4 separate regions of the Homo sapiens genome follow, and regions 1, 3 and 4 are each reported to be linked to region 2. The links are microRNA targets in miRTarBase. Many come from high-throughput screens and were not tested one by one. Region 2 holds a microRNA gene; each other region holds the end of a gene's coding sequence.

Region 1 (3,000 bases), not on the chromosome of region 2:
ATTCAACATGAGGTACTTCATATTTATGTATTTTTTCCTTCATAAATAATGCTGTAAGCTACTAAATTCAAGCACACTGATGCACAAGTGGCTACAGTGTCTTGAATTAGCTGAGCTTATTTAAACACCTTAATAAACAAAAAAGTTCAGTGCAATAATTATGTAGAAATTAGACCATTTACTTAAATACTATTTTAAGATATGCTTAAAGAATGTCACATTAGAACTGCTAGCCTAGTTCCCCTTTATCCCCAGAATGAACAACGACAAAGACTGCCAGCCAGATACGTTGGGGAAAAGCATCTACAGTGTATTCTGCTTAATAAAGTTGTGTTTATAGAATAAAGTTGCCTGCTTTGTTAGAACAATGGTTTCTAGTTTTAAAAGCTACAAAATCCAAGATTACAAAAGTAAATAAAGCAAGCATATTAGCCTTCATTCCATTTCATTGAAAATGCATAAAGGACAATAGGGTTTAAAATGTAAAATTTCTTATTCTAAATACAATTTTCAAATTTTACCCACAGCTCTCGGTACCAGCCAATCAGATGGTAGATATGTTTTAAAGTAATAACAATTAACATAAAATTACATTATTCTATACACAGTGTACAGGATTTCACACGACTTTCACCAGCAGCTCACTAGTCACATGGAGGCAGCTAGCAAACATGGGCACTGACAGTGAGCGTTAGTGAATGAACGCACTGCACCTGAAGACTATCACACCCACCTCAACAATCTGATAGGATGCAATTAAAGTTTCTTCTCTGGCTTACAAACAAGTGCCTTCTTATAAGGTCTACCAATTTGCACAGCAGCTATGAGTTACTGAAATGTGTAACCATAATTTAAAAACCAAATCTTTTGTAGAAGTGTGCTTTTTAATTGAAAATGTACCTTTGTACTTCAATGCTTTGCCAAACTACCTGTAATCTCCCCAATAAGAAATAATTGTACTTTTAGAACGTTGTCCTGGAAATACTCATCTATAATCACCAGTAACAGCTTTTCATCATCTATGCTAATAGATGTAGGTAATGGCAAGAGTGATTAAAACATTTCCAATAATCCAGTGTTCTCCTCCCTCAGGGAAGCCGGCTGAAGGCAACAAGCCCACATCTACAGGGGAAGAAGTGGCCCAGAGGCACAGTGAATACGTCAGGGCAGTCACTCATGGGCCTTGCTGGGGCCAGCAGGAGGACCATTACTGTCCCACCTCTTACTAGCCAGGTAGAGAGGAGACAGCTCCTGAGCTGGCAAACACACTTGCATGCGCATGGGTGCGCAGGCACACACACACCCCAGGACTAACTCCTGGCTCCAGACAAGCCAGTTTCAGGCTTGCAGAGCAGGAGCAGGAGGCGGCCAAGGACCACACTCTGGGTGGCGGCGGGGAAGCCATCTCAGGATCACACTGAGCAGAAAAGCTGCCCAGAAACACATGGATACTTCAACTGGAAGTGAACACACTGGACACTGCCAGGGACACAGGCACTAAACCAGCACAAGCCAGCAGCGAAGGAGAATTTAATAAGTTTTTCCCTCCTTTGTTTACATTATCTGTGGACAAGTAAGGGAGCTAGATGTGATACTGATGCAGTGAATATTAGGTATAATAAAATGTGTCACTCCAGGCCATTTTTTATAAACCCTGCAGGCATATGTTGGCACTTTAAGATGGCCAGGGGCCAGATTCTAGCAGTCTAGGAACAGGACAAAATTAAAATTAACAAAGAATATAGTATACAATCAAAGTGGATCAGGTAAAGTATATTTCAAATTTAAAAAAATGAACAAAGGTATCTCATTACATTAAATGTAGTGCTACAAAACTAGTTGCTACTCCATTTGTATAAAGAATTGTTTGGTCCTCTTTTAATGGGGAAAAAGAAAATAGAAATTCTACACAGTATGACTTATACAAATAAGCAAACAGTGGGGATCAAAAGCTAAGTGGAGAGAAGAGTTTGGCTTTTTCAAACTGCATATTCTTATATGCCATCAATTAAATTATTTGTAGTATGAGTCTTTTTCAGGCTTCCTTTTTAAACTGTCTTAGTTTAAATTAGTAGGAGTTTAACTTTTTTCTACTGACAATAAAATCTAAAAATTTACTTCTAAAAGAAGTATCTGTATTGAAATTTTTTGTCTTCTAAACTAAAAGAAAAGAAATCTGCTTGTAGAAGTCATGGCCTAAACAAATGCCCCCAGTTCCTTATTTTCCAATTTTACATTGATATTCTGAAGTGTTTAATACCTAACTATCTTATGAATTTAGTAATTTTTTAAATCCCAGAAGCAACAAATGTAAAAGGAATAAAACGAGAGCCAAACACAACCACTGTCTACTTTCTAAATTATTACTCATTACAAGGCAAAACTTCTTTCAAAATTGTACACTGAGGTTTATCTGTTTTGGGGGGTAAGAGGAGTTCTGTTTAAAAATAACTCTTGTTATCACTTTATTTCTGTTCATCAAATAACGTCCAAAAGGAAATTCAAGGTGATCCAAAATTATCTTCAGAGGGACAAAACTGAGAGGGTGGTGGAACGCTTGGGAAAGCACATAATCTCCCCAGGTTCATAGATGCAACTCTAAAAACCACAAAGCCTTAATAAGAACGTTAGCTCTTTTAAGCAGATAGTTAAAAGCGGAATGCTGCATTTTTGCCTGTACATAATTAAAAGGTTAAAAGAAATTAGAACCTGCCTACCGCTTCATTCATTACAAATTACCGGCACTGATCACATATTTGCAGATGAGCTAAGCATCAGGCAAGTTGGAACCAGATGTGCACTTTGGAGCTCAAGCTGCTTCAGGAAGTGAGTTTTCAAGCATAGAATATAAGTTCAGGGATCTGCCCTCCCTGTACCCCAGTGCCATTGGTGCTATCTGAGGAGCACTGAAACTGGACAGTCACTTTGCCACACTGAACTTCTGTCATGCCTTCTTGTCCAAAGTAGCTGAGTTCATTGCCATCCAGTATCACACTGGCT
Region 2 (3,147 bases):
TACCACCCAGTGGGGAGCCTTGGTCTGGTCACTGGCTCCCAGGACACCTGTTTTCACAACTGTCAAATAAGAAACTAAACAGAGTACAAAGAAAAGGCTCTGGACCCAAGCGGAATCAGCATCCCAGCTCAGCCGCTGCTGCGCTGGGTGACTTGACTCTCTCTGAGCCTTGGGGAATGGGCTGGATGCTCCCTGGGGGCCACACGGCCCATTCTCTTACCAGAGATGCCACCTCTGCCATCCAGAATGTCTCGGGGGCCCTCCTTGGTGACAGGCAGGTAACGGGTGGACCGGAAGATGCCACCTTCCCCCTCAGCAGCTTCGGCCCCACCCTCGATGTTCTCCCTTGGCGCCGGGCCAGGCAGTCTCTCTGGGCCTTGGGGACGATCTGGTGCAGCCAGGCTGCCTGCCAGAGACCCCTCCATCGGATTTTCTCTGCTTGGATCCACTCAGCTGCTGCACCGGCTCAGCGGGGCATTGTGGGCCTGGGGATAGAGAGAAGGAAGTGCTTAGGGGATGGAGGAAAGGGAATCTGCCTCAGTTTCCCATCCCTCAAAACCTCAGTCCTCAACTTTGCAGCTCACTGCCTCAGTTTACCTCCCAGCCCAGGGGAGCTAATGGTGTTCAGACCTTTTCCACACACCTTCTATCCCAATGGCCCCTACCCTCAGCATGCCTCCGTCTCCCCATCAATAACTCCTCCCCTTTATACAGATCCTGCACTGCCTCAGTTTACCCATATTGACACATGCACACTCAGCCACCTGGTCTTCTTCCATCAATCTTACCATTTCTCCAGACGCCTCCCTTCATTCACACACAGCTGCACTTTCCCCAGTCCTGCCCTCACATCCATGCACACGCACATCCTACTGCCATGCCTTCGTTTCCTCGGCAAGAATCCCAGCCACTTGTACACTCTGATCCTATACACCGTCAGGAGTCTCCCATCATTACCCCTTTACTTTTCTCCATTGGGTTGTCCCATACCAATGATCCCTGCACTTTTCCCACACTCCAACCCTTCCCCCACACAGGACCTTAGGGTTCTCCAGCATTAACCCCTTCACCCCCCTCCACACACACAGCCTCAAGTGACCCCAGCATTAACCCTTTCGCTTCTCCCCAACATTATCCCTCATGCATACCCAGCTTGGGCTCCTCCATTCCCCCCACCCCCCAACCAAGATTGCTCTAGTCCTCGGGCGAAAGAAAACGATAGGGCTCCTGGTCCAGAAATGAGGACCCTGGGGAGCGGGGGTTGTCCTCTCTACCTATAAATACCTTCAAGGTAACGGCGGAAAGTGAAGGGCAGGAATGAGGCGCCCTCCCCAGGGAGATGGTGGGGAGGCCGGGCCCAGGCAACCGGGGCGGGGCCGGGGCGCCAGGCCTGGTTGCAGGCGCTGCCCTCGGGGGCCTGGGGATTCCCAGGGGGCTCCTCCGTGGGCTGGCAGTCTTGGTGGGGGTCCCTACCCAGGCCCGGAGGAAGCACCTGCGGTTGTCCACTGGGTGGGCACTGCCCGCGGGGAACGGGCGGGACCGCAACTTCGGAGCACTTTGGCAGCGTGGGGAGGGGGCTCCTACCCGGACGCCCCCCAGGGGTCGCAGAGGTGGGGGCTGCGCCGCGCGGGCCCACTCCTCGGGGGTCCAGGGTCCGGGGGATGAGCCCTCCGCCCGTGCACCCCGGGGCAGGAGACCCCGCGGGACGCGCCGAGGTAGGGGGGACACCTGCCCCAAGACCCCCGCCCCTCCCCCCACCTGCACGGCCCCGCCCCCGGCCAGGCCCCGCCCCTGAAGGCCCCGCCCCCGCCCCCGCCCCGGGGGGTCCCGCCTGGCCCGGCCCGGCCCGGGGCCTCCCCCGCCCCGCTACGGCTCCGCCCCACCCGCGGGCTCCCCAGGCCGGGCCGGGCCTCACCGGGGAGGCGGCGCCGCCGGCCAGGTGCCGGGGCTCGGAGCTCCCCTCCTTGGTGCGGCCGTCGCTGCCGCTACCGCCGCTGCCGCTCCCGGTGCCGGTGCCGCGGCCTCCGCAGCCGCCGCCGCCTCCACCGCTCGGGGGACATTGTCCCTTTAAATCGCTCCCCCCGCCGCCCCGCCCCCCCGGCGCGCCGCCGTGACCTCAGCGCGACAGCCCCGCCGCGCCGCCATGATGGGGAGGTCCGGGGCGCCCCCCCCACCCCACCCCCCCCCCCCTCGCCGCCCCGGGGGGGGCGGCCAGCGGGCGCGCCGCCATGTTGGGAGTGGCCAAGCGGGTCACCCTTAAAGGGCCCGCACGGCCTGAGTCCAGGGAGAGGCCCCGTTACCATGACAACACCCTTGTCGTCCCACACCCCAATGGCTCCTTATCGTCCCACTGGTACTTCCAATGGTAGGCTCGCTAAAAGCACTAAAAGAGTGGGGAGGGTGCAGAGAAGTTCCCCCATGGGTCATTGATGGGTCATTGATAGGTCATTGAAGACTCCACCCAGCCAATTTTTAGCCTTTTGTCCCCTGCCCCCCATCAGCTACCTTCCAACCACAAGCTCACTCCCTCCTTCCCAATCATCCACACTGGACTTCAGCACCTCCATGTCCCTAGAGTTGCCCTAGGTCTTCAGTCCTAAGTCACCTTCTCCACCCAGTTCCCAGGATCACAGCTTCCAGGACTACCCCATCAGACACACATCATGGCCTGTTGTCTTGTCTTATCCACCATGTATCCAGATATCTAACCACCTAGCTATCTCATCCACTTCCTCAATCTATCAATCACTCATCTACCTATCCAATGAACTAATCACCTATCCACCCACCCCTCCAACCACCTATTAATTCACCCAAACACCCACTCAACCCACCCATTCACTTCCCATCTACCCACCCATTCATCCAGCACCCAAGTAAATACTCATTTATCCATACAACCAAGCAAGTACCCAACCATCCCCACACACATCTTTCCGCCCAGCCCCCCAAACATCCATCCACCAGTTTGTCTGTTGATTTGGTCCCTCCACTAACATGTAAGTTCCATGAGGCCAGGAGTCCTGTCTAGTTCATTATTGTTTCTCCACTGCCCAGTTCTCAGGCGTCTCAGGAGACCTCAACATATGTACATATGATATATATAATCACAACATTGAAAAAAATTTTTTCTTACTATGAACCAGG
Region 3 (3,174 bases), not on the chromosome of region 2:
GGAGTCTAGCTTTGTTGCCCAGGCTGGAGTGCAGTGGCATGGTCTCGGCTCACTGCAACCTCCGCCTCCCAGGTTCAAGCAATTCTCCTGCTTCAGACTCTCAAGTAGCTGGGATTACAGGCACCTGCCACCACGCCCGGCTAATTTTTGTATTTTTAGTAGAGATGGGGTTTCACCATGTTGGTCCTGATCTTGAACTCCTGACCTCAAGTGATCTGCCCACCTTGGCCTCCCAAAGTGCTGGGATTATAGGCGTGAGCCACGCGCCAGGCCGCTTTGCCATTTTAGCAGGCTTACCAGGCTTAACCACATATTGTGCGTGTGTGTGTGTAAACACTTATGTATATGTGTTTGTGTGTATACACAGACACACACACATATACATAAATGCATAATAAAGTACCTAGTACAATGGGTGGCACACGCTGGCACTTGATGACTGTGTTTTCTTCCTCACTCTTGTTTCCCAAGGTGGCATGTCACAAACAGCTTTTAGGCTGCTCAGACACAGTTCTTTCATTCCATCAGATGCCACTGAAGATTCGCCCTCCTGATTATTAATTATAATAATTCACTTCAGAACCCAGGGATTTTATGGAACATCAACTAGGTGACAGGCAACACATTTGAGGCAGAGATGATTATTTAGCTGATGAAAAGCCACTACCAACAGAAAGATTACAACCTCTGGAGTAGTTATTGCTACCTTTGAAAAGGTCAAAATCCGAAAAGATCCCAGTGATTCCTAACGGCAATTTCTACTTGAATCTATTCAAATAAAAATGGAGGTTTTAATTAATTAGGCTGCAGGCTTTGCCCAATAGTTCACATAGGTTGTATTTCAGTTTAAGTGCAGAACCAACAAAACAAAATATCCTTTGGGTGTTTAGCAAACTAAAGGAAATTGTACCTAATGTTTTGTGTATTTCTTTTAAATCAAAACCCTAAGATCACTACAGGAAACCACACCAGAACGTTATGTGATATCAAGTCATACACTGATGATTAAATATTACCTGTTATTTATATACAGATGGAGAAATGCCGAAACTAATCTCTATTCAGGAAAGGTCAACTAGTAAACAAACTTATAAATGCACAGTGACTAAAAAGGGAATAACATTAAATCTTAAGGCAGCATTGGTTGAGTCTTCTCTGGTAAAGGAAGTATTACATATGTCAATGACTAGTGTATGATTTTTTAAGAAACCAATTAATTAAAATAAATACTAAAATAATGTTTTCAAAAAGAAAGAGGACTGATTTTAAGACTTCTACAAAATGAATTTGTATTAGAGTTTTAATTTGGGATTAGAAAGCATATTAGGAGCATAATGGAATAAAGTTACACAAGATTTTCCTCAAATGCAAAGTCAAGGTCCCTAGAAATTATTGTTACTCTTAATGAGCACTCTTTGAGCTCCTTTTTCACTTGTTGTTGCACTCAGAGTAGTTATTAGAAAATTCTGCTGATTTTTAAATAATGTGGTCAGGTTGCATTTTACCTGAGTGAAATGGTTTCAAACTGCATTACCTACCATTATGCGCTAATTTTATAACTACATCCTTAATGCTGAGTTTGCTTACCTGGTGGGGTGCCTAAATCATCGTGTCCCAAGTATTGGTGCCATCCTAAAATGATGACATGTAATTGTGGCTGAAAAGTCATACATTGACAAAAATATTCCAAATCTCTTTAATAAAGAAAGTTTGGGGATCTGTGTTTTTTGCAGCTTGTTTGGTTAGCTTTTCTTGGCTAAGACTAAAAATTACCTTTAGTTGTTTTATAGATCCAGTGGTATATGCTGACCGAATAATGGGATGACACGAAGAACAGACAGAAACCTCAAAAAATGTTCCAATCAAAGGAGCTCTCACATGGTGCTGAGAAATAAAACATAGGCACTTCTGCTTCAGGAGGTTTTCACATTTTGATCACAGATTGGCTTTTCCAAGCCATTTTCCTTCACTACTAGAAATTCCCTCATGGTACAAACTGTCTAGTTCACTAGAAGCCTTGTTCTCACAGACACCCTTCTGGTGCGTGAATCTTTTATCATAAAATTCTCTCCATTGACAGCCGAGATGGGGTTCCTACCGCTGCTGGGAGCCGTGGGAGCAGCCCAAGTCCTTGTCAGATGACCAAGTGTCGCTTGAGGATACTCCCCGACACAAGGCTGCCTGCCCTCCAGAACCACCTTATCCACCAACAGAAAAAAAAGGCGCATCAAGCGCAATCTGTCTCCTGGAAATAGGGAACGTGTCTGCCTCTCTCTAGTTTCTAATTGTGAGTGTAATTCAACAAAGTGTACAGTCTTCCTAACGTTCTAAAGCTACTGCGCTACTGGGATTTTTTTTTTAAACGACTACTTAACAGTTTCCTTTTTTGTTTGTTTGTTTTGAGAAAACCTGTGCTAGAAAGGCACTAGAGAAAATGAATTTCCTCACTCTTGTATGTAACAATTATACATTGTGTTAGATTCTAAAAGCTAACGAAGTTGACGCACATTTGGATAAACCATCCGAATGATTTAGACTCATCTAGTTTCATTTTAAAAAGCAAACCCCAAGTCAAAGGGAGGGCAGGCCACACCAGGGGAGAGCCGCCAGACCGGGAGGTCACACCTGGTCAGCCCCTGCCTCCAAGGAGCTCCAGCTGCTCCAACCCTGGCTGGCCCGAGCAGGTGACAGGGCAGTGGCCGGGCCCCAGTGGGGGCTCACTGGCAGCAGCTGTGGGAGCCAAGCCTCCGGGAGACCTGAGTGAACGAGACAAAGGTGAAGTTCTCACAGTTTTCCAGCTTGACCTTCTTGGCTAAGTTTGGGACAATTCCCCGAAGAGAGCGCAGCCCCATCCTCTGCTCCTCATACCACACGCTGCCCATGTCTGTGGCCTCCTTCCTGGCAGTCAGGTAGAAGGGGGACTTGGCCTCCATTTGGGTGGGCGGCCGGTGGATGTACATGTACTTGTAGAGGAGGCAGTAAGGGCACTGTTTGTGTCCCCGGGAATGCTCATGGTAGATCTTCCCGTGACACACTCTGGTGGAGCCGCTCCGACTCTCCCGCTTGACGCTGTCCGTCCGGGCAAAGTAGGGCTGGTTTTGGGGGTCTTTGAGCAGCTCGATGTCACCATACATCAGATCCGCATGCTCCTGCAGCGTCCGCATGTTCAGGTAC
Region 4 (3,146 bases), not on the chromosome of region 2:
TTTGTATCTTTTTCTACATCATACGGCATCTAGTATGATGTTAACAAATTTAGCTTGTATGATCCCTTTGTGGGACATACACTAAAACTAACTCAGATGGCATAAATTGTTTGATTTTTCTGCAGGGATTCCGACTACAATCTCCTAAAAGCAGAAACAACCTTTTGGGTTTTACCTGTGTTTGAAGAAGAGACTCGCATTTTCCAGAAAGACATTTGATGTTTGTGTTTTATTTCTTTCAAAATATGCCTTGTGGTATGTATGTTGACATGTAAGTGCTTAAAGAAAAGAATTTTAAATTGTGGGAATACGTCTTTGGAGCAAACTTTAATCTCATGTTCTATGTAAAAGACTTAAAAAGTCATACAGTTGCACAAGTAGTTTATGCACTATTTACCCACAAGGAAAAAATTGAAAACATTGTGCCAAACTACAAACAAGTGACTGTACTGTATATATTTTTACTTCTATATCAACATTTGGTTGTATTTGGGGAAGTTGTCCCTGTTAATTTACTAGAAACATTCCAGTGATTCTTGCTATTAACCACCCCCACTTATGTGGATAGCACCTGTAGATCATGGTGGAAAAATATGTTGTGTTACACAATTTACCAAAATTAAAGGATACTGTTTGAAATGTGCCAAATTTTCTTACCTCATCTCACAGATTCACCCACAGTTTAAAGCTCATTAATTATTTTTAAATGGATATATACACACCCAAACATATATATGTATATGTTTGTGTGTGTGTGTGTGTGTGTATATATATGTATATATATATATACACACACACACGTTCTTTTAAAGTTTTAGACTCTACTGTCCTGTGTGGAAACATGAACAGCTAAACAAGGCAAAATAAAGATTTTCTTGTTCCATTGTGTAAGGGTTAAAATTTTGGAAAAGTCTGAAGGCCACAACAGCTAAGTCCATCAGGGACCCAAGTATATGCATTTACAGAACGTTTTACAAGGAAACAAAACAGCTGCTTTCAAAGTTTGTTTTCTAAAAGCAAAATCTGTAGCTGAAAATTATTTAAAGTGCAAAGTTATATTGCTGATACTTTATATCTCAGTTTTATATATTTTATAATAGTCTGGGATAAATTATAAAAATAGCTATAAAATCAACACTAATGATAAATGAAGTATATAGAATGCTTTTATTTAAATAGTTTCCTAAATGTTTTATTCCAGTTTTGTCAAAAGTGCACTCATATCATGGCTTTAGTGTTCTTTCAGTGTTTAATCTTGCAATGCCAATGTCATTTAAAGAAAATGTTAAGGCATCCCAGTTCAACCAAATTTTTCTTCTTATGAGTAAAGTACATTTACTATCAGATAAGATGAACAATTTGTGGCAACAACTGATTTGGGCCATATACCCTTAGTCTGAGGATAACCAATATTTGATGCCACACACTAAACTTAAATCTCAATTTTAAGTACAAATTTTTAAATCACATTTTTTATTCAGTACTCCCCCTACTTTTTAAAAAAAATTTCACAGCCCCAACATTCCTCACTACTACTTTTTCTTCCCTTTTATTCACCACTTGACTTCTAACATTTGATCTCTTTTCTTTGCACAATTGAAGGCCTGTGCATCTGATGACTGATGCATTATGGCACAGATGAGATAATGGATGTGAGAGCGCTTTGTAGATCATAAAGTGCTATACAGATATAGGGGATTAATATTATTAATATTGTTAGTTGTTGTCGTTGTTACTATTCTTATTAATATTGTTACTAACCTATTAACTTGTGAATATATAGGCTGGGGTGGGAGGGTGGAGAATAAGTGGGAAGGGAAAAAGGGGATTTAACAAAAAAAGGGAAGATGTTTCAAAAGGAAAATTTTAAGCAAAATATGAACCTACCTAGTCAATGCCACCTAAATGTATTCACAAACAGAGAAGCAACATTTGAAAGTAGTCAGAGAGAAATGGAAGGAAGCCTGTCATGTATATAAGTATATACACTTCCCGGTCCATGATTCCTTTCACCAGCCTGCTCTATTCCTTACAGCTGGGTCGTAAAATGAACAAGCCTGTGTTCTTGATCATGTGTGTTCCCAGCGTCAGTCTCTTGTGTCTGTGGGGATGAGTGGGTGAGGAGCATTCTGTGAGGCTGGTACAGGCCCATTCCTAGGCTTTAATGCTCTGTTTGCAGTGAGCCCTGGAAAATTACTTAGTGGAAAGGCACCAGATGAAACATGTCTCCTGCCCCATAGCTACCATTCAAAAGGGAAAATAACCAAACTGGAAAACCTTCTTCTATTTCTCTATTCTGATAGCTAGCTGTACTAAATGCTATGGCCAGTCCCTAGAAACTGGTCTTTGTTTTGTTTTTGTTTTTGTTTTTGATTTTTCTGTTTTGCAGCTGAATTTTGGCTTGGAATCACCAACTCTGCCTGTATTGTGATCCCCAAGACTCCAGACCTCAGAGTCACCTGCTGGCTTAGAGGAGTGGAGTGCTTTCTATGTAATGAAAAGGTGGCAATTAATGAAAAAATAAAGAAAATGTTCCATTAATACAATGTGTTTTTATAAAAGTAAATATGGGAGCAGTTGTCCCAGTTTTTTTTCGGTATCAGTTCAGCTTTGGAGAATGGGGTGTGAGTGGGGTAGGACAGCCTGAAACTGTTGGAAACAATTTCCTTGTGAGAACTTGCTATCATAAGTCCTTTGGAATGGATATTCTTTCAGTTGCTCCTATGGAGCCCATTAAGGGCCAATTCTAGGGCATAGTTCATCCCTTTCTCCAAAGAGAATTGTTATTTTAAAGTACCTTTTTAATTGGCCTGCAGTGTATTATATGTTTTTAATATATAAATTAGTGACGCATAACCAGTCACTTTGTACTGAAACATAAAAAGAAACAGAGTTTGAGAAATGAGCAATAGGCCGAGGCAGAAGATGTTTATTCTCTTAATTGCATTTAATATTCCTCTCAGTACATTGTGTTCTGAGATGTTCATCATTTAGCATTTTGTTGGTCCTGTCTCTGCTCTCACAGTTCTTTTTCTTCCTGTCATAACCAGCTGCCTTAGTAGAGTATAAAAATAGTGTTTTGCCCTATCACTGGTATCTCAAGTCAGAAATATATATTATCCTTGGTCTGAAATTCCTGATTACCG

The links. The annotated mature microRNA hsa-miR-1470 reads GCCCUCCGCCCGUGCACCCCG and lies in region 2 at 1,666-1,686, shown strand. An mRNA with a match to its seed (bases 2 to 7 or 8) in the 3' UTR can be bound and repressed. Matches are read on the target gene's strand: a 7mer-m8 pairs with bases 2 to 8, a 7mer-A1 pairs with bases 2 to 7 and ends in A, and an 8mer does both.
Region 1: miRTarBase lists BTBD3 as a target of hsa-miR-1470. Seed matches in the 3' UTR shown: 7mer-A1 at 1,543-1,549.
Region 3: miRTarBase lists KIAA1958 as a target of hsa-miR-1470. The part of its 3' UTR that is shown has no 7-base or 8-base seed match.
Region 4: miRTarBase lists NEXMIF as a target of hsa-miR-1470. The part of its 3' UTR that is shown has no 7-base or 8-base seed match.

Annotation. Positions count from the first base shown.
Region 1 is chr20:11,923,501-11,926,500 of GRCh38, reverse strand. BTBD3 (BTB domain containing 3) reads right to left here. Exons shown (of 4, transcript NM_014962.4): 4 at 1-3,000. The coding sequence ends at 2,835. Among named protein-coding and RNA genes, the nearest start is that of BTBD3-AS1, 6.4 kb to the right of the region's middle. RefSeq lists enhancers at 828-1,328, 1,329-1,829.
Region 2 is chr19:15,447,883-15,451,029 of GRCh38, forward strand. It overlaps MIR1470 (microRNA 1470), which reads left to right and starts at 1,666; the gene lies at 1,666-1,726. It overlaps WIZ (WIZ zinc finger), which reads right to left and starts at 2,074. Exons shown (of 13, transcript NM_001371589.1): 1 at 1,916-2,074; 2 at 221-485. The coding sequence starts at 425. RefSeq lists silencers at 1,339-1,448, 1,799-1,918, 1,969-2,098.
Region 3 is chr9:112,659,613-112,662,786 of GRCh38, reverse strand. KIAA1958 reads right to left here. Exons shown (of 4, transcript NM_133465.4): 4 at 1-3,174. The coding sequence ends at 2,718. Among named protein-coding and RNA genes, the nearest start is that of INIP, 57 kb to the left of the region's middle. RefSeq lists a silencer at 2,092-2,292.
Region 4 is chrX:74,736,478-74,739,623 of GRCh38, reverse strand. NEXMIF (neurite extension and migration factor) reads left to right here. Exons shown (of 4, transcript NM_001008537.3): 4 at 126-3,146. The coding sequence ends at 219. Among named protein-coding and RNA genes, the nearest start is that of RLIM, 120 kb to the right of the region's middle.